Linked DNA regions of Homo sapiens. The protein of the gene in region 3 purifies or fractionates together with the protein of the main gene of each other region. This does not show direct contact. Each region holds a gene or a part of one and is shown on either strand. Other genes may lie near its edges. The genes, in order: QRICH1, SPECC1L, FSCN2 and TBC1D22B.

What was found.
Region 1: the proteins of FSCN2 (region 3) and QRICH1 purify together in Homo sapiens (affinity purification with mass spectrometry; 2 studies listed by BioGRID and IntAct, with this or other methods). This does not show direct contact.
Region 2: the proteins of FSCN2 (region 3) and SPECC1L purify together in Homo sapiens (affinity purification with mass spectrometry; one large-scale study listed by BioGRID and IntAct). This does not show direct contact.
Region 4: the proteins of FSCN2 (region 3) and TBC1D22B purify together in Homo sapiens (affinity purification with mass spectrometry; one large-scale study listed by BioGRID and IntAct). This does not show direct contact.

The regions. Positions count from the first base shown.
Region 1 is NC_000003.12:49,054,657-49,060,744, forward strand, and holds part of QRICH1 (transcriptional regulator QRICH1), read right to left. Parts: intron 3,235-6,088; coding exon 2,206-3,234; intron 1-2,205. UniProt on the Homo sapiens protein: Transcriptional regulator that acts as a mediator of the integrated stress response (ISR) through transcriptional control of protein homeostasis under conditions of ER stress.
Region 2 is NC_000022.11:24,318,277-24,324,364, forward strand, and holds part of SPECC1L (cytospin-A), read left to right. Parts: intron 1-3,011; coding exon 3,012-4,642; intron 4,643-5,943; coding exon 5,944-6,088. UniProt on the Homo sapiens protein: Involved in cytokinesis and spindle organization. May play a role in actin cytoskeleton organization and microtubule stabilization and hence required for proper cell adhesion and migration.
Region 3 is NC_000017.11:81,533,522-81,539,236, reverse strand, and holds the end of FSCN2 (fascin-2), read right to left. Parts: intron 4,186-5,715; coding exon 4,029-4,185; intron 3,092-4,028; coding exon 2,970-3,091; intron 2,688-2,969; coding exon of another isoform or gene 2,616-2,687; coding exon 2,448-2,615; intron 2,363-2,447; coding exon 2,157-2,362; 3' UTR 2,107-2,156; downstream 1-2,106. UniProt on the Homo sapiens protein: Acts as an actin bundling protein. May play a pivotal role in photoreceptor cell-specific events, such as disk morphogenesis.
Region 4 is NC_000006.12:37,259,939-37,266,026, reverse strand, and holds part of TBC1D22B (TBC1 domain family member 22B), read right to left. Parts: intron 1-6,088. UniProt on the Homo sapiens protein: May act as a GTPase-activating protein for Rab family protein(s).

The DNA.
Region 1 (6,088 bases), on a different chromosome or scaffold from region 3:
CATTCTGGGAGGCCAAGGTGGGAGGATCACTTGAGGCCAGGAGTTCAAGAGCAGCCTGGGCAACACAGTGAGACCCTGTCTCTACAAATATATATATATGCCGAGTGTGGTAGTCTGTGCCTATAGTCCCAGCTACTTGGGAGGCTGAGGCGGGAGGATTTTATGAGCCCAGGAGTTAGAGGCTACAGTGAATTATGATCACTACCATACTCCTACCTGGGAAACAAAGCAACAACCTGTCTCAAAAATAAATAAACTACAGTTCAAACGTCATTTTGTCCACAAAGACCTCTGTTGACTTCTTAACCTAGAATTTCTAAATTCCCAGTTTGTCTTTGTGTATATGTCATAATTATTCTGCCTTATAAATAATTCGAAGGAAAAGAAATCCTGAGTTCTTACTTTTCACAACTAGACTCTAAGCTATATGAAGCAAAAAACCTTCTCTTATTCTATTTCTAGGCCCAACAGCTAGATATTTAGCAGGTCCTTAACAATGTCACCTAGGATAATATGATACTGCCTCTATGAAACCACCTGGTCAACCTTTGCTTAATTAATCACTTACAGCCCATGTTTCCAAGTGCAGTCCCTTATCTAACTTGTTTGTACCAGCTCCCACAAACATATGCATGCTCAGGAGCCTATGCCCACCGAGGCATAGCACCTTCATCAGTCCCATAAGACCAGAGGCCCTATATCCCACTCTAACGGGACCAGATATTTTACCAATCAGTTCTTTTAGACAGGGTCTCACTCTGTTCTCTAGGCTGAAATGCAATGGCATGATCATAGTAGCCTCAACCTCCCAGGCTCATGCAACCCTCGCATCTACGCTGGGACCACAGGTATGTGCCATCACACTAGACTATATTTTTTAAATTTTTGTAGAGATAGGGTCTTCCTATATTGCCCAGGCTGATCTCAAACTCCTGGGCTCAAGCATTCCTCCCACCTCAGCCTCCCAGACTGCTGGGATTACAGGCAACTGCCACTGCACCCAGCACTAATAGTTTTTTTGTTTGTTTGTTTTGAGACAAAGTCTTGCTATGTTGCCCCAGGTTGGAGTGCAGTGGCACGATCTCAGCTCACTGCAACCTCTGCTTCCCAGGTTCAAGCAATTCTCCTGCTTCAGCCTCCTGAGTAGGATTACCTGGGATTATAGGTGTGTGCCACCACACCCGGCTAATTTTTGTATTTTTAGTAGAGACGGGGTTTCACCATGTTGGCCAAGCTGATCTCAAACTCCTGACCTCTGGTGACTCACCCGCCTTGGCCTCCCAAAGTACTGGGGTAACATGCATGAGCCACCGTGCCTGGCCCCTACTTTTTTCTTTTGACAGAGTTTTGCTCCTGTTGTCCAGGCTGGAATGCAATGGCGCAATCTCAGCTCACTGCAACCTCTGCCTCCTGGGTTCAAGTGATTCTCCTGCCTCAGCCTCCCGAGTAGCTGGGATTACAGGTACCTGCCACCATGCCCAGCTAATTTTTGTATTTTTAGTAGAGACGTGGTTTCATCATATTGGCCAGGCTGGTCTCAAACTCCTGACCTTGTGATCCGCCTGCCTCGGCCTCCCAAAGTGCTGGGATTACAGAAGTGCACCACCTCGCCCGGCCGCCCCCGTAACACAAAAACTCTTGGGAGGTCCCACCACATAGACGGCATATTCAAGCCTCCCAATGGTGATCACTTTTAACAGGCTCCTTATGAGTTATTTTAGCTTTTCTAATTCACCCACACTGTGTGCCCAAAGATGAAAAACAGAATGAACAATCTCACAGCCTCTCCAGTGATGAGTTTGTAATCTATGTGATAAACTACAAGTGTTTTGCTAAAACCATTTACTTATGATACAAGGAAACAGCACTGGGACACACTTGAGGTGTCCCATTCATCTACACCTGTAACTTTACTCTTCCTGAGAAGAGATTACAAAGAAGTGTCCATGGTACTTAAACCCAAAATGTCTCCAAAACTCCAAAGCAATTCCTGGCCATCTCATTTACCTCCAGGTACCAGGATAAACTCTTTTTTCTGTTGCATAGCCTCACGTGATGTTTCTCCCCCTCTTCTCCCAAATACTAAATACTGCATCACTGTAAGAGTAACAGCAGTAAATAAGCCAGAGGTTGCGAGGCAAGCTCTGTGCTGCACTGGGCCCTGAGGGACCAGGCTGCCTGCCCTACTGATAAGTCTTCACTTACTGAACAAGTAACTTGGAGTTGCTGCTGCTGCTGCTGTGGTGGTGGTGTCTGTTCCTGGGGAGTTTGCTGCTGCGGCTGCTGTTGGGGGTCCCATATATGGACAGTTTGAGCCGTATTCTGGTACGTGCCTGCCACAGCCTGCACAGCCACTGGAATGTGGATGTTGCCATTCATGAACTGTGCTGGAAAGAGAGAGTTTGCAAGGGTCTGCACTACCTCTTCATGGGAGTTTTTCACTACAGATGTGGTGCCCACCATCTTCTCCTTGTCATCCTCCAGCTTAACAGCTGCCAGGGCTGTGGGTGAGCCACTGACGTGAACTGCGTTGTAGGCTTCCTGGGGAATGGCAATGTGGGTAATGCTCTGCTGCTGAGGGTCCCCCCGGGGCTGGGCAGAATAAACAGGGATGGTCCAGGTTTCTCCTGTAGGGCTAGTAATGGTCCCAGTGGCACTGTACAGGTGGGCACTGTCTACTGTCAGTAAGTCTGGCCTCAAAGACACATAACTCTGCTGCTGGCCCTGTGGAATGGCCAGCACGGTGGCCACCGGCTGCCCTGAGATGGCGTAGGACACAGTGATGGGCATGTCCACTTTGCGCTTCTTCACTGGTTGGAGGACACTGGCCGTGCCAACCCGCCGCTCCCCTTCCCGGGGTGAGCCCTGCTGGGATGGTGGTGGGGAAAGGGCACCCACGGTCTGGATTTGGATCTGCTGACCACCAGCAAGAGACTGGCCAGCCACCAGCTGAGCCTGGATTTGCTGATGTGGGATGTGCTCCTCCGGGATTTCTGCAGCCTGGATCTGCTGGGCTGCTTGCACGTGCTGCACCTGGATCTGAGCTGCTTGCAGCTGCGAGGGACTGGGACTCTGCAGAGACGGGGTCTGAATGGAGGGGGCTGCTGACTGTGGTGCCTGGCCTTGGATCTGCACCTGGACCTGGATGGGTTGCTCAGTAGGCTGGTGAACGGTGAGTTGTGGGGAGAGCTGAGCCGAGACCTGTTGCGGAGACTGCTGTACCTGCACCTGGACCTGTAAGCAACAAGATTCATCAGTGAGTGAACCAGGCAGCACTGAAAATCCAGTACCCAAGGAAAGAAAGAAAAGAGATCCCAGACAGGGGACCTGCAAAATGTGAGAAAACACTGGCATACTCAAGGCTTCTGAGAAGGACACAATACGTAAGACTAGATCCAGGATTGTCCAGCAGCACATTACAATAACAGGGACATATATCCACCCCAGAGAGCAAGCAAGACAATTAACTGGGGCCTAAAAAGGAAATACCAAAAAAAAAAATTTTTTTTTTTTAAGATGGACTCGCTCTGTCGCCCAGGCTGGAATGCAGTGGCGCAATCTCAGCTCACTGCAACCTCCGCCTGCTGGGATCAAGCGATTCTCCTGCCTCAGCTTCCTAGAGTAGCTGGGATTACAGACATGCTGGAGTCTAACAAGGAAATATCAAAACTTTGGTTCTTTTTTTTTTTCCCCAAATTCTCATTGTGTCGCCCAGGCTGGAATGCAGTGGTGCCATCTCAGCTCACTGCAATCTCCACCTCTCAGGCTCAAGCAATTCTTGAAGCCAGCCTCCCGAGTATCTGGGATTATAGACATGTGCCACCATACCCAGCTAATTTTTGTATTTTTAGTAGAGACGAGGTTTCACCATGTTGGCCAAGCTAATCTTGAACTCCTGACCTCAACTGGTCCACCCACCTCGGCCTCCCAAAGTGCTGGGATTACAGGTGTGAGCCGAAACGGCCGGCATTTTTATTTCCATTTTCTTTGAGGCGGAGTTTTGCTCTTGTTGCCCAGGCTGGAGTGCAGTGGCATGATCTTGGCTCACTGCAACCTCAACCTCCTGGGTTCAAGCAATTCTCTTGCCTCAGCCTCCTGAGTAGCTAGGATTACAGGAATGCATCACCATGCCCAGCTGATTTTGCATTTTTAGTAGAGACAGGATTTCTCCATGTTGGTCAGGCTGGTCTCGAACTCCCGACCTCAAGTGATCCGCCCACCTTGGCCTCCAAAACTGTTGAGATTACAGGCGTGAGCCACCACGGCCAGCATTTTAAAAATTGTTTTTGAAATGGAGTTTCACTCTTTTTTTTTTTTTTTTTTGAGACGGAGTCTCGCTTTGTCGCCCAGGCTGGAGTGCAGTGGTGCCATCTCAGCTCACTGCAAGCTCCGCCTCCCGGGTTCACGCCATTCTCCTGCCTCAGCCTCCCGGGTAGCTGGGACTACAGGTGCCTGCCACCACACCCGGCTAATTTTTTTTTTGTATTTTTAGTAGAGATGGAATTTCACCATGTTAGCCAGGATGGTCTCCATCTCCTGACCTCGTGATCCGCCCGCCTTGGCCTCCCAAAGTGCTGGGATTACAGGCGTGAGCCATCACAAGGGACCGTTTTTTTCTCTAAAGATAGGGTCTTGCTCTGTTGCCCAGGTTAGAGTACCGTGATAAGATGATAGGGCACTTTAAACTTCAAACTCCTCAAGTGATCCTCCCACCTCAGCCTGCTAAATAGCTAGAACTACAGGAACACCACCACCACACCCAGCTAATTTTTTTTTTTTTTTTTTAGACAGAGTCTCGCTGTTACCAGGCTGGAGTGCAGTAGTATGATCTCAGCTCACTGCAACCTCCGCCTCCTGGGTTCAAGCTATTCTCCTGCCTCAGCCTCCTGAGTAGCTGGGACTACAGACGCATGCCACCACCCCCAGCTAATTTCTGTATTTTTAGTAGAGACGAGGTTTCACCATGTTGGTTGGCCAGGATGGTCTCGATCTCTTGACCTTGTGATCCGCTCACCTTGGCCTCCCAAAGTGCTGGGATTACAGGCTTGAGCCACCATGCCTAGCCTTATTTATTTATTTTCTGAGATGGAGTTTCGCTCGTTCCCCAGGCTGGAGTGATATGGTAGTCACGGCTCACCGTAACCTCTGCATCCCGGATTCAAGCTATTCTCCTGCCTTAGCCTCCCAAGTAGCTGGGATTACATGTGCCTGCCATCACATCCAGCTAACTTTTTTTTTTTTTTTTTGAGACGGAGTCTCGCTCTATCGCCCAGGCTAGAGTGCAGTGGTGCGATCTCGGCTCACTACAACCTCCACTTCCCCGGTTCAAGCGATTCTCCTGTGTCAGCCTCCCGAGTAGCTGGGACTACAGGTGCGTGCCACCACGCCCGGCTGATTTTTTTATTTTTAGTAGAGACAGGGTTTCACCGTGTTAGCCAGGATGGTCTTGATCTCCTGACCTCATGATCCGCCCACCTCGGCCTCCCAAAGTGCTGGGATTACAGGCGTGAGCCACCACGCCCAGACCTAATTTATATATACATATATATGTTTTTGAGACCAAGTCTCGCTCTGTCGCCCAGGCTGGAGTGCAGTGGTGTGATCTCAGCTCACTGCAAGCTCCGCCTCCCAGGTTCATGCCATTCTCCTGCCTCAGCCTCCCAAGTAGCTGGGACCACAGGCACCCGCCACCACGACTGGCTAATTTTTTGTATTGTTATTAGAGACAGGGTTTCACCGTGTTAGCCAGGATGGTCTTGATCTCCTGACCTCGTGATCTGCCTGCCTTGGCCTCCCAAAGTGCTGGGATTACAGGTGTGAGCCACCACACCCAGCCCTAATTTTTGTATTTTTAGTAGAGACGGGGTTTCACCATGTTGGCCAGGCTGGTCCAAAACTCCTGACCTCAGGTGATCCACCAGCCTTGGCCTCCCAAAGTGCTGGGATTATAGGCGTGAGCCACCATACCCAGCCCCCAGCCTGATTTTTTGGGCAGAAGTCCCCAACCCTGGGGCCAAGGACTAGTACTGGTCCGTAGGCGAACGACACAGCACAGAGGTGAGCATTACCACCTGAGCTCCACCTCCTG
Region 2 (6,088 bases), on a different chromosome or scaffold from region 3:
GGGAGGCCGAGGCTGGCAGATCACTCGCGGTTAGGAGCTGGAGACCAGCCCGGCCAACACAGCGAAACCCCGTCTCCACCCAAAAAATACGAAAACCAGTCAGGCGTGGCGGCGCGCGCCTGCAATCGCAGGCACTCGGCAGGCTGAGGCAGGAGAATCAGGCAGGGAGGTTGCAGTGAGCCGAGATGGCAGCAGTACAGTCCAGCTTCGGCTCGGCATCAGAGGGAGACCGTGGAAAGAGGGGAGAGGGGAGAGGGAGAGCCAGATTTTCTTTTTTATAAGGATTTTTGATTTAGATAAGGATGTGGTACCACTTGCAGAACTAGGGAAAGGAATTAATGTTGGGGAAAAAAGTTACCCCAGCCAGGTGCGATGGTGCACGCCTGTAATCCCAGCACTTTAGGAGGCCAAGGTGGGCAGATCACTTGAGCCTAGGAGTTCAAGACCAGCTTGGGCAACATGCCCAATGTGGTGAAACCCCGTCTCTACAAAAAATACAAAAATTAGCTGGGTATGGTGGCGTGTGCTTGTAGTCCTAGCTACTCGGGTGGCTGAGGTGGGAGGATCACCTGAGCCTGGGAGGTAGAGTTGCCGTGAGCTGTGATGGCACAACTGCACTCTAGCCTGGGTGACAGAGCCTCAAAAAAAAAAAAAAAGTTATGCCATCTTTTTCCATTTTTGGCCTCCGTATACAGTTGTTTATCCCAGTCTGGTTACTCTTGCCTTTGATATCTGTCACAGATTTCTTGCCTCTTCTCTGTTCTTACTGCCGCCCCTGAATGTGGGACCTCTTTTACCTCATTGATCTACCTGCCCACATTCCTCCTCTGCTGCTCTGCTTTCTTCCTTATGTATTCCACTTAGAATCTGTATTAGTCCATTCTCATGCTGCTGTAAAGAACTGCCCCAGACTGAGTAATTCATAAAGAAAAGAGGTTTAATTTACTCACAGGTCCACAGAGATGGGGAGGCCTCTGGAAACTTAGAATTATGGTGGAAGGGGTAGCAGGCACATTCTTCTCCACATAGTGGCAGGAAGGAGGAGAATGAGAGCCAAGCAAAGGGGAAGCCCCTTACCATCGGCTGTCATGAGAACTCACTATCACGAGAACAGCGTGAGGGTAACTGCTTCCATGATTAAATTACCTCCCAACAGGTCCCTCCCGAAACACATAGGGATTATGGGAACTACAGTTCAAGATGAGATTTGGGTGGGGACACAGCCAAACCATATCAGTATCCTCTAGATTAATTTTCATAAAATGTACTTTTCCTTACATTTCTTTCCTACTCAGGATCATTTATTGACTTAGTGTGACTCACTGAATTCTGCCTATCTTTTGGGACTCTATATGAACATTCCCCAGCAGCTTCCGTTAACTGTGTGACTGTACTTTTCCTTTCTGTGTGCCATGTTCACTTCTGCTTCCTTTCGTTGTCTGTCTTTTTGCCAGCCTGAATTCCGCATCCTCCTGTATACCTGTTCTGTTAGTGGCTATCTCCCTCTATCTGTGGAGATCATTTGCTCCCTGTTACCTCTACAGCCTGGATCCCACCACCTAATGAACCAGCAGGGTCTTTAAAAATACTTATTGATTAGATGTGGATCTTATTTTTTAACATAAAAATTTGTTATTTCTTAAGTATTTACAGGTATTTAAACATATTCCTGGCCAGGTGCGGTGGCTCACGCCTGTAAGTGCGGTGGCTCACGCCTGTAAATTCAGTGGCTCACGCCTGTAATCCCAGCACGCTGGGAGACCGACGCGGGCAGATCATTTGAGGTCAGGAGTTTGAGACCAGCCTGGCCAACATGGTGAAACCCTATCTCTACTAAAAATACAAAAAAATTAGCCAGGCATGGTGGCACGCTCCTGTAATCCCAGCTACTTGGGAGGCCTAGGAAGGAGAATCGCTTGAACCTGGGAGTCAGAGGTTGCAGTGAGCCGAAATCGCTCCACTGCACTATAGCCTGGGTGATGGTCAAGAGAGACTCCATCTCAAAAAAAACCAAAAAAACGAACAAAAAAAACTTCCTGTTCTTTTTGTATTAAACAAATGATTGTGTCAGTTTTCACAGGTTTAAAATTTTAGTAGTTAAGTAATCATGTGATTCACGTAGATTTGATTGACGCATCATCATTATTTAACATTAGTGCTTCGTTGTTTTTTACATTTAGAGAGACAGTATAACATACTGGTTAAGGTGCAAAATCTGGAACCAGACTGCCTGGGTTTCAATTTTGGCTCATCTATTTATTACCTGTGACATGTTGGCAAATTATTTAACATCTGTGTCTGAGTTTCTTCATCTGTAAAACAAGGTGATAATAGCACCTACCTCACGTCTTTAATGAGGCTTATATAAGTTAATGTATGTGAAGTGTTAATGTATTTGTATAACCAAGTGCTAGGTATGTGTTAGCTATTGTTATAATTGTTATTATTTATGTGGCATTTTATGGTGTTAAAACTATTTTGCATTTACTTTGGTCAGAGTAAAATTTTTGTGTTTCTAGTAGGTAGCTTAGATTTTTGGTTTTCCCAGAGACTGCTTTTCCCTTCTTGCCCACCTATGATCTCCCTTCACTATCTGTGTACAGTTAGTTTACCACCGACTGGCTAATCCTGGAGTCATCTTCACCTGTCTTGCCCTAGAATATTATGCCTCTGGCCAACTGGTTAAAACCCCACTTCTGGATTCAAGTTAATGTATATCATTTAAATAACAGCTTTGTAGAAATGTAATTCACATTCCATAAAATTTACTCTTTTAAAAACATGTAAAACAAAGTGTATAACTTATTTCTCCTTGATAATTAAAAGATGAATGATCTTCTGGTTTTGAAGAAATTGAACTTTAACAGACTCTAAGGCAAGATTATTGTAGATCTAAATCATTGTGTAGATCCTGGATTTCATCTCATTACACCTGGGGCAGGAACTGTGTATTCTATGTAGCCTTTTATTGCTGACATTTTTGCCTTACATTTTTTGTATTAAACACATAGGCACAGCTTCTTCAACCAAGCGGAGCACTTCTACAGGTAATAAAGAATCCAGTTCTACTAGAGAAAGATTACGTGAACGTACCCGATTAAACCAGAGCAAAAAACTACCTTCTGCAGGTCAGGGAGCTAATGACATGGCATTGGCCAAACGTTCCCGCAGTCGAACTGCTACAGAATGTGACGTTCGTATGAGCAAGTCTAAGTCAGACAATCAGATCAGTGACAGAGCTGCTTTGGAGGCCAAAGTGAAGGATCTTCTCACGCTGGCAAAAACCAAAGACGTAGAAATTTTACATTTGAGAAATGAACTGCGAGACATGCGTGCCCAGCTGGGCATTAATGAGGATCATTCTGAGGGTGATGAAAAATCTGAGAAGGAAACTATTATGGCTCACCAGCCGACTGATGTGGAGTCCACTTTATTGCAGTTGCAGGAACAGAATACTGCCATCCGTGAAGAACTCAACCAGCTGAAAAATGAAAACAGAATGTTAAAGGACAGGTTGAATGCATTGGGCTTTTCCCTAGAGCAGAGGTTAGACAATTCTGAAAAACTGTTTGGCTATCAGTCCCTGAGCCCAGAAATCACCCCTGGTAACCAGAGCGATGGAGGAGGAACTCTGACTTCTTCAGTGGAAGGCTCTGCCCCTGGCTCAGTGGAGGATCTCTTGAGTCAGGATGAAAATACACTAATGGACCATCAGCACAGTAACTCCATGGACAATTTAGACAGTGAGTGCAGTGAGGTCTACCAGCCCCTCACATCGAGCGATGATGCGCTGGATGCACCATCCTCCTCAGAGTCGGAAGGCATCCCCAGCATAGAGCGCTCCCGGAAGGGGAGCAGCGGGAATGCCAGTGAAGTGTCCGTGGCTTGCCTGACTGAACGGATACACCAGATGGAAGAGAACCAACACAGTACAAGTGAGGAACTCCAGGCAACCCTGCAAGAGCTAGCTGATTTACAGCAGATTACCCAGGAACTGAATAGTGAAAACGAAAGGCTTGGAGAAGAGAAGGTTATTCTGATGGAGTCTTTATGTCAGCAGAGCGATAAGTTGGAACACTTTAGTCGACAGATTGAATACTTCCGCTCTCTTCTAGATGAGCATCACATTTCTTATGTCATAGATGAAGATGTAAAAAGTGGGCGCTATATGGAATTAGAGCAACGTTACATGGACCTCGCTGAGAATGCCCGTTTTGAACGGGAGCAGCTTCTTGGTGTCCAGCAGCATTTAAGCAATACTTTGAAAATGGCAGAACAAGACAATAAGGAAGCTCAAGAAATGATAGGGGCACTCAAAGAACGCAGTCACCATATGGAGCGAATTATTGAGTCTGAGCAGAAAGGAAAAGCAGCCTTGGCAGCCACGTTAGAGGAATACAAAGCCACAGTGGCCAGTGACCAGATAGAGATGAATCGCCTGAAGGCTCAGCTGGAGAATGAAAAGCAGAAAGTGGCAGAGCTGTATTCTATCCATAACTCTGGAGACAAATCTGATATTCAGGACCTCCTGGAGAGTGTCAGGCTGGACAAAGAAAAAGCAGAGACTTTGGCTAGTAGCTTGCAGGAAGATCTGGCTCATACCCGAAATGATGCCAATCGATTACAGGATGCCATTGCTAAGGTATTGTTTAAATAGATTAAAATGTTCCGGACAGCATTAGGCAGCTGCCATGCACAGTGTTTACTGAGAACCTGGGTTACTGGTTTGGTTTGGTGTGTTATTAGCTTTTTTTTAAAACTGATATTTTTAAAACTTGGGAATGGTTTCCTTTTATTGGAATAGTGTGAAAAGTATTCTTAAGATAATGTCACTTTCTCTCACTTGTATTTTGTTTCTGTTTTCCTGCCTGTGAGAGGATATGGCTGGTATTACAGCTAAAACCAGAATTTGTCCCTAGTTCTGAGTATTCCTATGGAGCGGGTCATGAAATTTTACCTCCCCCCGCCTCATCTCGAATCTGTTTTGGTGTAATAGGTGGAGAGTCAGTATTCCAGTCTGTAGCATCAGCAGTGCATGTTTCCTCTTATCTTGCTATAGTAATAGTTTTTCAAATAGAGATCTGTTGATAGTTAAAAAATATTTTTGGCATATAGAGGCTCCTGTTTCTCAGAGGCCTGTGATTTATTGCTGGCAGGGACCTTAGCAATTATCAGTCCAGACCCTTGTTGTACATGCCTCCAGCATAATAGTGAGGACTCAGTTGGAACTGCTACCCAGGGCCACTGGCATTCTGGCCAGGGATCTATCTATACCCCATGTGGTTGCTGATGAACTGTTTATTTCCATGAGTTATTCTAGTTATACTAGTTATTCTAGCTTACATTTTATTTATTTGTTATTTTAGTGCAATGATTTTAAAATAAATTTTCATATATCTTTGGCTAAAATTTGAGTAATTTAGATTTTAGGGTGTTTTTAGTGATCACTTTTAAAGTTACAGTTTAGGAGATTTGTATTAGTTCTTGGCACATACATGTTGAGAGGCTACTGTGAACTAATACTTTTGTAAAAACACTATTTGAGAATTGTTTTCCCTTTTTCAGTTTGATACTGGAACCGTCACAAATATGACATCATTTTTGTTAGGACAACATGTTAATCATTAAACAAACGTACATGCTTTCAGTCCAAAGTTAGGAGAAACGAAAATTTCCAAAGTTTCCTTGTAAATAATCAGGTTAAGTTCAATGATACATCAATATAATTTCAGTCAGTGTTACAGCAACAGTTTAAGTGTATTAGATAAAATCTTACCATGGAGTGCTTTTTCATACTTTTTAACAGTTATTACACAGGTTGTTTTAGTTTATCCATAGTGCCTCATACTTAGCTCCCCTTGGAAACTGTGTGTACCTCAATTCTGGAACGTACCTTAGAACAACTCTTAACTTTTCTAAATCTGCATCGTCAATTTTACGTAGGTAGAGGATGAATACCGAGCCTTCCAAGAAGAAGCTAAGAAACAAATTGAAGATTTGAATATGACGTTAGAAAAATTAAGATCAGACCTGGATGAAAAAGAAACAGAAAGGAGTGACATGAAAGAAACCATCTTTGAACTTGAAG
Region 3 (5,715 bases):
GTGCAGGGTCTGTGTTCACACGCCTGGGGGAGGGGTGTGTGTCCAGGGCTGTGCCAGCCCCTCACTCGCCATCACAGGCCACAGGGATCCCAGAGCTGACAGATCTGGGTCGCCTGCAGGACTCATCTCCCCACCCTCAGCTGGATGCCAGCAGGTCTCAGGAGGCTGGGAGCCTGAGGGGCCTTCCACGGGGCTGCTGTCTGTGCAGAGCAGTGGCACCATCCAACCCTGTCAGCCTCAGCTGTGCAGGGGGTGTGGGGGCACCACTGTGGCTTGTGAAAGAGCAGACACAGGGATGAGCCGCACTGGTGTCCCCACACCCCCGGGCACACACTGGGGGTTTAGATAGCTTGCTGTCCTTGGCACTGCAGCCTCCTGAACTAAGGCGGTGCTGGCCACCAGGGCTGAGACGGCGTCCCCAGCTGTCCTGACCTCTGTTGGGGCATTCTCCAGGGCCACCCATGTGGAGGCATCAGTGCTGGTGTGTTTACAAATGTTCATGCCCACCTGCCAGCCTGAGATCCTGCTGTGGGGACGCCTAGTTCAAGACGCCATGTGGTCCCCCCGAAAAGAAAGCTGCGACGCAGACCCTGAGGGGCCAAGAGAGCAGGTCACGTGGAACAAAAAGGAGATCTACAGCGGCAGGAAAGGAGGGACCACAGTGGGCAGTCCCCAGCCCCGCTGTGCCGCCAGAGTGTACAGGGACTGGGCGAAATGTACCCAACTCACATGCACCTCCAAGGAACCTGCTCTCAACACTCGGCATTTGAGGAGGGCTTGGCCTCAGAGGCAGGTGGCAGGTCCACAATCAGCTTCTCGGGGAGCCTGCGGACCACGGTGTGGCCGGGCCCTGTCGCCCATCCTGGGCCTCCCTGCCCTCACCTCTTCAGTGCACACCTCCTGGGCTCTCAGCACCTGAGCTCTCACTACGTGAGGCCCTTCCCCGGTGGCAGGGGCGGCCTCTCGACCTTTCCAGCTTCCTCCACCTGCTCCAACTCCGATCCTGGCTTGACACCGTAGCCTTGCATGACCCTCAACCCAGCTCACACGTGGGGTGAGAGCAGCTGTTCTTCCCCCTCCTCCTAGGAGCATGTGCTAGACGCCACCTGGCAGCTGCTGGCAGCTGTCTCTGCATGGAGTAGCACCTGCCTCAGCAGCAGCAGTGGGCCCCCCGCTTCCAGGCCCAGCCATTATTCCGTTCCAAAGGGTTTCTTTGACCTCCCACCCCACCCTCCGCTTCCTAGCCTCTGCCTCCCGCCGTGCCCCAGGCTGTGGATGTGGACGGAAGTGGGGGTTCCCGCAGTGGCAGGCCAAGTTCACGTCAGGCAGGGCAGTGCAGGGAGACAGACCCTCTCCGAGGCTCTGCTGAGCGGGGAGCCTGGAGGTGCTGAGTGCCAGCCACTGCGGTTCCACCTGGTGCCCCCAGTCCCGCCCCAGCCACAGACTCCACCTCACCTTGGCTGCCACCAGGGGACACTGCAGGCTGCAGGGACAGCCCGAGCTCCAGGGTCACTGCCGTTCCCTGCCAACTTGGACCAGGTGGCACCTGGTCCTCCAAGGGTTAACTCGGACCCGCCTTGCCCACGTGGCTCGGGGAGTTCCAGCCTCTTACCATGGAAACCTGCCCTTCTTTGTCCCTAAGGCTGGTGGGCTTAGTGGAGGGGCATCCCAGCCAGTTCCTCCCCTTGCTGGCCGTGCTGGTCCCACCTCCCCAGGACTGGCTCTCCCCCACCCTCTGCCACTCGCCTGGCCTTGAGCAGTGCACAAGGAAGGACGAGCACCGCAGGGGCTGCCGGGGGCTAGGGAGGGTTGAGGACCTAGGTTGGGGAGGGGCGGTGTCCAGTGAGGTCATCTGTGGTCGGTGTTGGTGGCCTCAACCCGCGCAGGCTCAGTCCCCCACCCACCCCCAGTCCCCGTCCTCCCCATGTCCTTGAGACCTCCCCTCCAGCGGCCTGGGTCACCCGGCCCATCCACAAGACCACCTCCCAGACGGGAGTCCCTGGGCACTGGGAAGTTCTGGGCTCTCTCTGGTTTGGGGAGAATTGTGGGCCTCCTCCACCTCCAGCTGCAGGACCCCCAAGCGGCGCCCCGGGGCCCACCCACAGCTGCGGGAGAGACACGGTTTTAATGCGCGACAGGCTGGTCTGGGCGCGGCCTCAGTACTCCCAAAGCGCGGTCCCGGCCGGGGCGTCGGCATCGGCCCGCAGCAGGCCCGAGGCGCCGCCGCGCAGGTACTTGCCGCTCCGGGCGCGGATGGCCAGGCGGCCGCGCTCACGGAACTCGAAGACGAAGTCCTCGGCGCGTTCGCCGTCGCTGCACACGCTGCCGTGGCTGCCCGTGTACCAGAACCCTCCGTCGCGGCCTGGGGGACGGGACGGCGTCGGCGGGGGTGCCCACCTGCCCGCTGCCACCCCCGCTCCCGCGTGCCCACCCGCCCCGCCACGCACCTCGGATCCGGTAGGCGCCGTCGCTGAAGCTCAGGTGGAAGACGTCGTAGACGGAGCGGTTGGTGTCCAGCTGGTTGGAGCCGCGGTGGTGGCAGACGAAGCCGTCCAGGCCGCGCAGCACCAGGATGGGCCGGTTGATGAGCTTGAGGGTGAACTCTTCGTCCTTGCCTGGCGGGGAGAGCGTCTGCTGCGCTGCCCCTCCCGCCACCTTCCCTGTCCAGGCCGGGCGGGGTGGGGGCCCTGGGAAACGCCACACCTGGACTTAGGGACCCAGGCCTGCCATTGCCTCATGTGCGGCCTTGGCAAGGCGCCTAGGGGGTTCCCAGCAGCGGAGATAAGGACATTCAGACCTGTTTCCCTTGCCAAGACGAGTTATCTTGACTAGCAAGTATGACTCCATGACAGCACCCGTTCCGTGGGCTGGGGAGGGTCCAGCTCTTGGTGGAGATGGGGTGTCTGGGCAGGTCCTTTCCCTGGGTGGAGACAGCCCCTGCCCCAGTACCTGGCAGGCAGAGTGCTCACCGACAAAATCGCTGATAGCCGCCAGCTGCCCATTCTTCTTCATGCACACGTAGCGCCCGTTGCTGGCTTTGAGTGCTACCCGCCGGCCACGCCACTCCATCTCAAACATGGTGTTGGCAGAACTGGAGGGAGCAGCAAAAGGTCTCCTCAGGACAGCAGGAGATGGGGGTGCAGGGTCTCACTTCCCCATCCTCCTCAGGTTCCAAGGAGTGGGACAGAAGCCTGCCCTCCACTGACACACCCACCACCATCAGGCGCTACCCTGCCCCAGTGGGCTTTCCTTTCTGACTGAGCTGCTACGGCAATCCTCATGGCCGAGGCAGTGATGGTGGTGGGAGTGATGGTGCAGGTGATGGGAACGGTGGTGGGGATGGTGAAGATGGAGATGGGGATGGGGATGGAGAGGGGGATGGTGATGGAGATGGGGATGGGGATGGAGAGGGGGATGGTGATGGAGATGGGGATGGTGGAGATGGGGATGAGGATGGTGAGGGGGATGGGGATGAGGATGGTGAGGGGGATGGGGATGGGGATGTAAATGGAGATGGGGATGGTGATGGTGGGGATGGCAGAGATGGGGATGGAGATGGGGATGGTGGGGATGGAGATGGGGATGGTGGAGATGGTAATGGGGATGGTGGAGATGGGGATGGTGATGATGGTGATGGGCATGGTAGAGATAGAGATGGGGATGGTGATGGGGATGGTGGTGATGGAGATGGGGATGGTGATGATGGTGATGGAGATGGTGGAGATGGGGATGGTGGTGATGGGGATGGGGCTGGTGGTGGTGGGGGTGGTGGGGATGGAGATGGGGATGCGGATGGTGGGGATGGTGATGATGGGGATGGTGGTGATAGGGATGGTGATGATGGGGATGGGGATGGCGATGATGGTGATGGAGATGGTGGAGATGGGGATGGTGGTCATGGGGATGGGGCTGGTGGGGGTGGGGGTGGTGGGGATGGAGATGGGGATGCGGATGGTGGGGATGGTGATGATGGGGATGGTGATGGTGGGGATGGGGATGATGGAGGAGGAAGGGATGTGTGCACTCACACTTGTGTGGCTGTGGCGTGAATGCCCCCATGGGTGACCAGGGTCCAGTAGCCCCCAGTGCTGGAATAGAAGGTGCACTTCTTTGTCTCCTGGTCAATTTGCATCAGGAAGGTCTCGTGGTCTAGTTCATCATCCTGATTGGCTGAGACGTTGACCCCTGGAGGGAGGAGATGGGGAAGCCCCTCACGCCTCTCCTGGGTAGGGAGCAGGGGAGGGGGCATATTTTGGGGGGCACCCCTGAAGCCAGAGGTGGGTCTCATCTAGAACCCTCTTGACTTGAGAAGATTTGGAAGGCACCTCTCAGAGACCCTGGGAACCCTGCCCCAGGGCCATATGTGCCGTCTGTGGACCCTGCACACTGTCCCCAAGGGAGCCCTGACCTCCCTCCACACCCCCAGGAGCCAGGCCCTTCTGCTTGGCACAGCCCCCACTCTCTGCTAATCAGTAATCAGCTGGTAATCTCCTTGCCCTGCTCTCTTGACCCAGGGCTTACCCCAGCCTCTATTTATAACTCACCCTAAGCTGCTGGATGGGCACAGGCAGGACCTAATGAAGGGGATGGTGCGGATGGTGATGGGGCACCCCTGGGCTCCAGCCAGGGGCTGGTCCCTGTCACCTCTGCAGCTTTCCCCAACCATCTGTGCTTGGTCTCCCAGGACCCCTGGGGGAGGACAAGACTGCCCCGGGCTCCATCTGGGGTTCCTGCGAGGGGATGGAGGGGCACCCATGCCCAGCATGGGGACAGCAGGCACCAGAGCCTACCCAGGATCTTCTGTGAACTAAGTCCCTGGCTCCTCCCACAAACCACCTCCCTGTTTGCATGGCAGCCAGACACTGGGAGTGGTGTGTCAGATTGCGGAGCTTCCCACAAGGCCCAGGGACTCTGGTGGCCTGTCCAGCTGGGGACTGGGAGGGAGTGGTGGGCAGAGCCCCCACAGGGCCTGAGGGTGGGGCCAGATCCCATCCCACGCTGTGCCCAGGGGAGAGGATGCCAGGCTGTGACCATGCCAGACAGCTTGGGACCTTTTGCCTTCTGCCAGCCCCAAAGCTGCCCCTCACGCCCCAGGCTGGGATCTCCCTCACACTCATCACTGATCAGACGCAGAGGAGCACCCGGCATGTCCCCTGCACTGTGACCGAGTATTCGTGCCAGCATCCCCACTGCCACCAGCTCTAGATCCTGGCAAATACTGAACTAAAAGCAGCTGCCTGGGCCCAGTGGAGGGCAACACTGACACGGTACCCGGGGGCAGCAGGAGCCCGCAGGAGGGGCCCATGAGAGGTGTGGGAACGCCGTCCCTGCGGGCACTGAAGGAAGCCACAGCATCGCAGGGCTCCCCCCGCCACTGCACCTCCCAGGCCAGCACTTTGGTGTCCCCAGAGTTGCCCCACACCCCCTTCAGACAGGATGCTGTCTGGGGCTACTCATTCAGCCACCTGCTTCCGGGGACATGGCCTCAAAATAGGAGAGGAGTGGAGTCCGCCTTGGTCTGGGCAACACTGGTTTTACCCCCCTCCAGAGGGGCTAGCTGAGCAGTTGGGGGACTCAGTTCTGGCAAATGAGTGTGAAGAAGTGTCTGCTAGGACTTAGGGGAGAAGTTTTCTTACTCCTATGAAGACACAAGCAGAGCCAGTGCCTCTTTTTCCTCTGGACTTTGTCCTGCCTGGATGTGAGGCCTGGAATACC
Region 4 (6,088 bases), on a different chromosome or scaffold from region 3:
ACTACCCAGCAAACACTCAGTGCCCAAGAAATGTTGATTTTCTTCCTCCCTCCCATTTTTATAATTTAATCCATACTCAACATTTAGAAATTGAAACAAGCTTACCAAATACTTGTTTCACATAACAGAGGTGATCCTAAAGGATGCTCTTAAATAAAAATATAGCCAAATCAATCACTTTCACATTGATTCCTATTAAGATTTCAGAGGAAATCTTACATATAATCTTTAATTTATGAATACAGTCCCTACTTCTTTAGCTATAAGAATCTTTACTCCCTAAACCTCTCTGGAAGATTAATAAGTAATGTGTAAGCAAACTATTACATATATTACTACAGAAATACAAACTTTGAAAACAATACTAATTGATGTGTTTAAAGGGTTTCCTAGGCAGAGAGAAAAAAAGAGGAATCAAAGAGTAAAGGGAAAGTTCTGCTGAGAGAGGAAGGGGGTGTTAGACACCCCCACTGACCACGGGAAAAAAAAAAAAACCCAAAGGGCTACTGATATGCACATTAGCAGCTGCAAATAATCTAAGAGTACACCTGAATTCTTCAAGCCCACAAGCCCTCCTCACAATAAAATATAAAATCAGAGGATAAACTGCAGGAAGATCTCAACAGGCCGGTTAGGTAAGGTGACTGGGTAGAAAAATAAGAGAGTATTACCTTAAAGAAGTATTACCATCTGCCAGTAACCCATGCAGAAGAAAAGCAAACCTAATTTGTGCAGGCTGAAGGGCCAGAGGCCATCAATTACCATCTAGGAAAGGAATCTTAAAATCACAGTAGACTATTTTTTAAAGCTGTCAGCCCAAGGTGCTGGCATAGCCAGGAAGGCTAAGATAAATGATGGACTTCATCAGCAAAGGTATCAGGGCCCAAATTGAATTTGTTAACATATTCTTGAACTGAACCATGATGTATCTAAAACTGGAACACTTTGTATAATAAATCAGCTTATTGCAGCTTAAAAAAGACAGGCAAGAATTTAGAAAAGAGAAACCGAGATGATCACAGAGACTAAATGGAGATAGACCAGAAGAGCCCAATGATTAAGGTGCTCAATTTCCTGACATTTATAATTCACCTTTCACTGTCTGTACCATACCTACTCCTTCCAAACCCAAACTCAGCTCTAAGAAAGACTGATCTCCACTCCACCTTCCAAACTTATTAAACCCATTATTAAATAAGGCTCTTTTCCCTACTTGGAATGCTTTTCTATTTTCTACATCCCTTTTCAAAATTGTATCCATCCTGCAACATTCTCTTCAAATTCTACACCCCTCATGAAACTTTCCATACCCCTACCCCCAGCATCTACTAACTCATGTCTTCTCTAGTTCCCTAACATACATAAATTAGGGCTTATATTACTTTTTAAAAATAAACTAGATTTAGATCATAATATAAGACACAATCAGGGCTGGGCACTGTAATCCCTGCACTTTGAGAGGCCGAGGCAGGCAGATCACTTGAGTCCAGCAGTTCGAGACTGGCCTGGCCAACACAGCAAAACCCCATCTCTACTAAAAATAAAAATTAGCTGGGCTTGGTGGCACACATCTGTAATCCCAGCTACTCAGGACGCTGAGGCACAAGAATTGCTTGAGTCTGGGAGGCAGAGGTTGCGGTGAGCCGAGATCGTGCCATTGCACTCCAGCCAGGGCAACAAGAGTGAAACCCCGTGTCAAAAACAAAACAAAACCAAACAAAACAAAACACCCTGGCATACCCCTCCCTCCCTTCCTAGCAAGCCACTCTATTGGATCTGGCATTTTTCACACTCATTTTTATATTTTTATTTTCTATGTATGTATCCCTAAATAATGTATGATTTTGCATGTTTTTTAAACTTTATATAAATAACATCACACTGTAAATATGACTTATTTTGACTCTAAATCATGTTACTTTAAATTTTACTTAATTCCATGGCTAACTGGCTGATCTCTCCAACACAAGTTAAAAAAAAAAAATACAAAACATTTGCTCTAACACAAGTGAAAAAGCATTTAATTGACATTTTCAAACACAAAGAAAAGTACAGAAAATGATATAATAAACATCCACAAACCCATCACTCTGATTTACAAATGTTAACATTTGTCACATTTCATTTAAGAAAAAAAGTGTTAGGCCGGTCATAGTGGCTCACGCCTGTAATCCCAGCACTTTGGGAGGCCAAGGTGGGTGGGTCATGAGGTCAGGAGATCAAGACTATCCTGGCCAAAATGGTGAAACCCCATCTCTACTGAAAATACAAGAAAATTAGCTGGGTGTGGTGGCACGCATCTGTAGTCCCAGCTACTCGGGAGGCCAAGGCAGGAGAATCGCTTGAACCCGGGAGGCGGAAGTTGCAGTGAGCGGAGATCGGGCCACTGCACTCCAGCCTGGCAACAGAGTAAGACTCCATGTCAAAAAAACAAAACAAAACAAAACAAAAACAAAGTGTTAGACTACTGATGCCCTAATTGCAGTCCCTAGTCCTGTTTCTTCACTTCCCAAGAGATAACAATTATTCTGAAATTGGAGGGAACTCCTCCCATCTGTTTTTATTCCTCTACATATATTCACAGATCCATAAACAACACACAGTATTTTTTATGTTTTTAAACTTCACATAAAAGACTGCACATTGCACATATCTTTCTACATCTTGCTCTTTGCATTCAACAATGTGTTTTCACCCAATTCCACTTTTAAGTTTGTCTGATTACAAATATAACATATGTTTAGTGGAAAAACCAGAAAGTCAATCATACACAGCATCTTCTCCAGGGGAAGCCATGATGCCAAGCAGATTTTTTAGCTCCTAGAAAGCCATAGTGGTGCCATATCTTTTTCTGTAGCCCCCTTGCCACCTGGCAGAGCATGACACATACCAGCAGGCACTTAACAATATTTAGTAAGTGAAGATTAGATCTCTACAAAACCTAGGCCTCCACTTAAGCTAGACCTAAAAACCAGAGGTTAGTTAACACACTGCATCTCGAAGAAATCACACCACATATGCAGAGAAAAGAATGCCATGGAATATGCTGCCACGCAGACAAAATGGAACAAAAGTTCTGATTAATCTCCGTCACTCTCTTTAATAAAACCAACACCATAGAATGTATTGACATAGCTGTTTTGCCTAGTTGAAACAGTGCAAACATCTTGGTAGGAAAAATCAACAGGTGTTTGTTTAGCACTGATAAAAGAGCTAGTGCAAATATGGGAAAAAGACCCATCAAATTTAAATGCCAAACGTGTTGGCAACTGATGTAGGTTCACACACTCACTCCACATTAGTCTTCCAGAACAGGTGATCTATGCTGTTTCGATGATAATTTAGTATCTTCTAGTCACTCACTCTACCAGTAAAACATCTCCAAGCCAAGAACAAGTTGTAATGTACCTGCCCAGACAGGCTGTGACTTTTACACTAAGTCTCCTATCAGATTCATTATTATTTTAGGATCGGCTTCAAGTTCTTAACTTGGCCTCTCTTTCTAACAACGAAGGGCCTGGAAGACTCAGGTAATTTCGATTTTGGCCAGACGCAGAGGCTCATGCCTGTAATCCCAACACTTTTGGAGGATGAAGTGGGCAGACTGCTTGAGCCCAGGAGTTCATGACCAGCCTGGGCAACATGGCAAGACCTGTCTCTACAAAAAATACAAAAATTAGCCAGGGCTGGGCACGGTGGCTCACACCTATAATCTCAGAACTTTGGGAGGCTGAGGTGGGCTTGAGGTCAAGAGATCACTTGAGGTCAAGAGTTCAAGACCAGCCTGGCCAACATGGCGAAACCCCCTTCTCTACTAAAAATACAAAAATTAGCTGGGCATGGTGGCATGTGCCTGTAATCCCAGCTACTCAGGAGGCTGAGGCAGGAGACTCGTTTAATCCTGGGAGGTAGAGGCTGCAGTGAGCTGAGATCGTGCCACTGCACTCCAGCCTGGGCAACAGAGGGAGACCCCATCTCAAAAAAAAAAAAAAAAAGGTGATTTTTTTTTTCTCCTGTGCCCGAGCTCTAGACACACACACACACACACACACACACACACACACACACACACACACACACACTGACCAAAGCTTTTTTATTTTTCCCCCATAGGTTTGTGCCACCAAGCCCAGATAATTTTTTTGTGTGTTTTTAGTAGAGACGGAGATTCACCATGTTGGCCAGGCTGGTCTCGAACTCCTGACCTCAAATGATCCACCTGTCTCAGCCTCCCAAAGTGCTGGGATTACAGGTGTGAGCCACCACACCCAACCAGATCAAAGCTTTTCAATTTCAGTTTCAAAAACTGAAGCAAGGAGAGAAAACAAAAATGATAGCTACTATCATCGTAACTATCCTTCTTATAATAGCTAATATTATTGTGTACCTCCTAACCAATTATTATGTATTATCTCATTTAATCCTCATAACAGCCCCATGGAGCAGATACTCTGTCCCTATTTTAGAGATGGGGAGACTGATGCATTGAGAGGTTAATTAAATCCCATAAGATCACATAGCTAGAAAGCAGAGCTGGGATTTTAACCTAGGCAGTCAGATTTCAGAGCCTGCATTTTTTTTTTTTTTTTTTTTTGGAGACAATCTCTTGCTCTGTTGCCCAGGCTGGAGTGGAGTGACGCAATCTCAGTTCACTGCAACCTCCGTCTCCCAGGTTCAAGAGATTCTTGGGCATCAGCCTCCTGAGTAGCTGGGACTACAGGCACACACCACCAAGCCCAGCTAATTTGTATTTTTAGTAGAGATGGGGGGTTTCACCACGTTGGCCAGGCTGGTCTCGGACTCCTGGCCTCAAGCGATCCACCTGCCTCAGCCTTCCAAAATTCTGGGATTACAGGCCACCACACCTGCCAAAGCCTGCAATGGTAGAGATTGCCTCTTATCTTCTAGGCATTAATACAATGACCATTTGATGTGCTAAGTAAATGGGGCTCATGTGAATAACTGAGAGAACTTAAAAGATGCTTAGTTCCACCAAGTTACTACATGACCCAGCAATTCCACTCCTATTTATCAGCAGAAGAATAGAAAATATATATCCAAACAAAAACCTCTGCATAAATGTTCATAAAAGCATTACGTACAATAGCCCAAAAGTGAAAACAATTCAAATATCCATCAACTGATGAATGAACAAAATGTGGTGTATGTATACTATGGAATATTATTCAGCCATAAAATGGAATGAAGTACTGATACATACTACAGCGTGGACAAGCCTGAAATCACTGTGCTTAATAAAAGAAGCCACTCACAAAAGGCCTCAGATCATATTACTCCATATATATAAAATGTCCAAAAGTGGTAAATCCACAGAAACAGAAAGTAGGTTAGTAGTTACCAGGGTCTGGAGTGGGGTGGATGGGGAGTGACTGTAAACAGGTATGTAGTTTCTTTTCAGGATGATGAAAATGTTCTGAAATTAGTGGTGATGGTTGCACAAAACCATCTATACTATAAATGAATATACTAAATACCACTGAATTGTACACTTTAAAAGAGTGAATTTTATGGTATGTGAATTATATCTCAATAAAGCTGTTATTTTTAAAAAGAATGTTTCATTCATTTGCAACTTCTTTTATTTAATAAAATTTCTATTTGTTGTCACTAAGATTGTTGGATCATGATCAGACAAATGGAAAGAACCCTGTCATCGCTTTTATTTTTCACCTTTCAATTTGCAAAGAAGAGTAAACTAGTTTCATTTCCAAGTTTGCATGCATCCAGTAGAGTCATTTGTGTCATTTCCCCACCCAGGAGAAAGTTTTTCTTCTCTAAGACCGAAAGAGTACAGATGCAAAAGTTCTATTCTTGAGAAAATGCCCTAACATTTTCTTTAAACCAAAGTACCTTTCTATCTAAAAGAACCTTAGTTTTCTCCTATGACCAGAGGCTTGTGGGCTTCACTGCTAAAAGCACACAGCTGAACAGTATTTCTCTTTACCAAGTAAGGTACTAAAAACTATTATGAATTGTGACAATATTTGAATACCTTAAACAACGAAGACAATGAGCTGGGGTAAGGATCTGAGTAACATTATTTTAAATGTTTACTTGCTGTAATAAT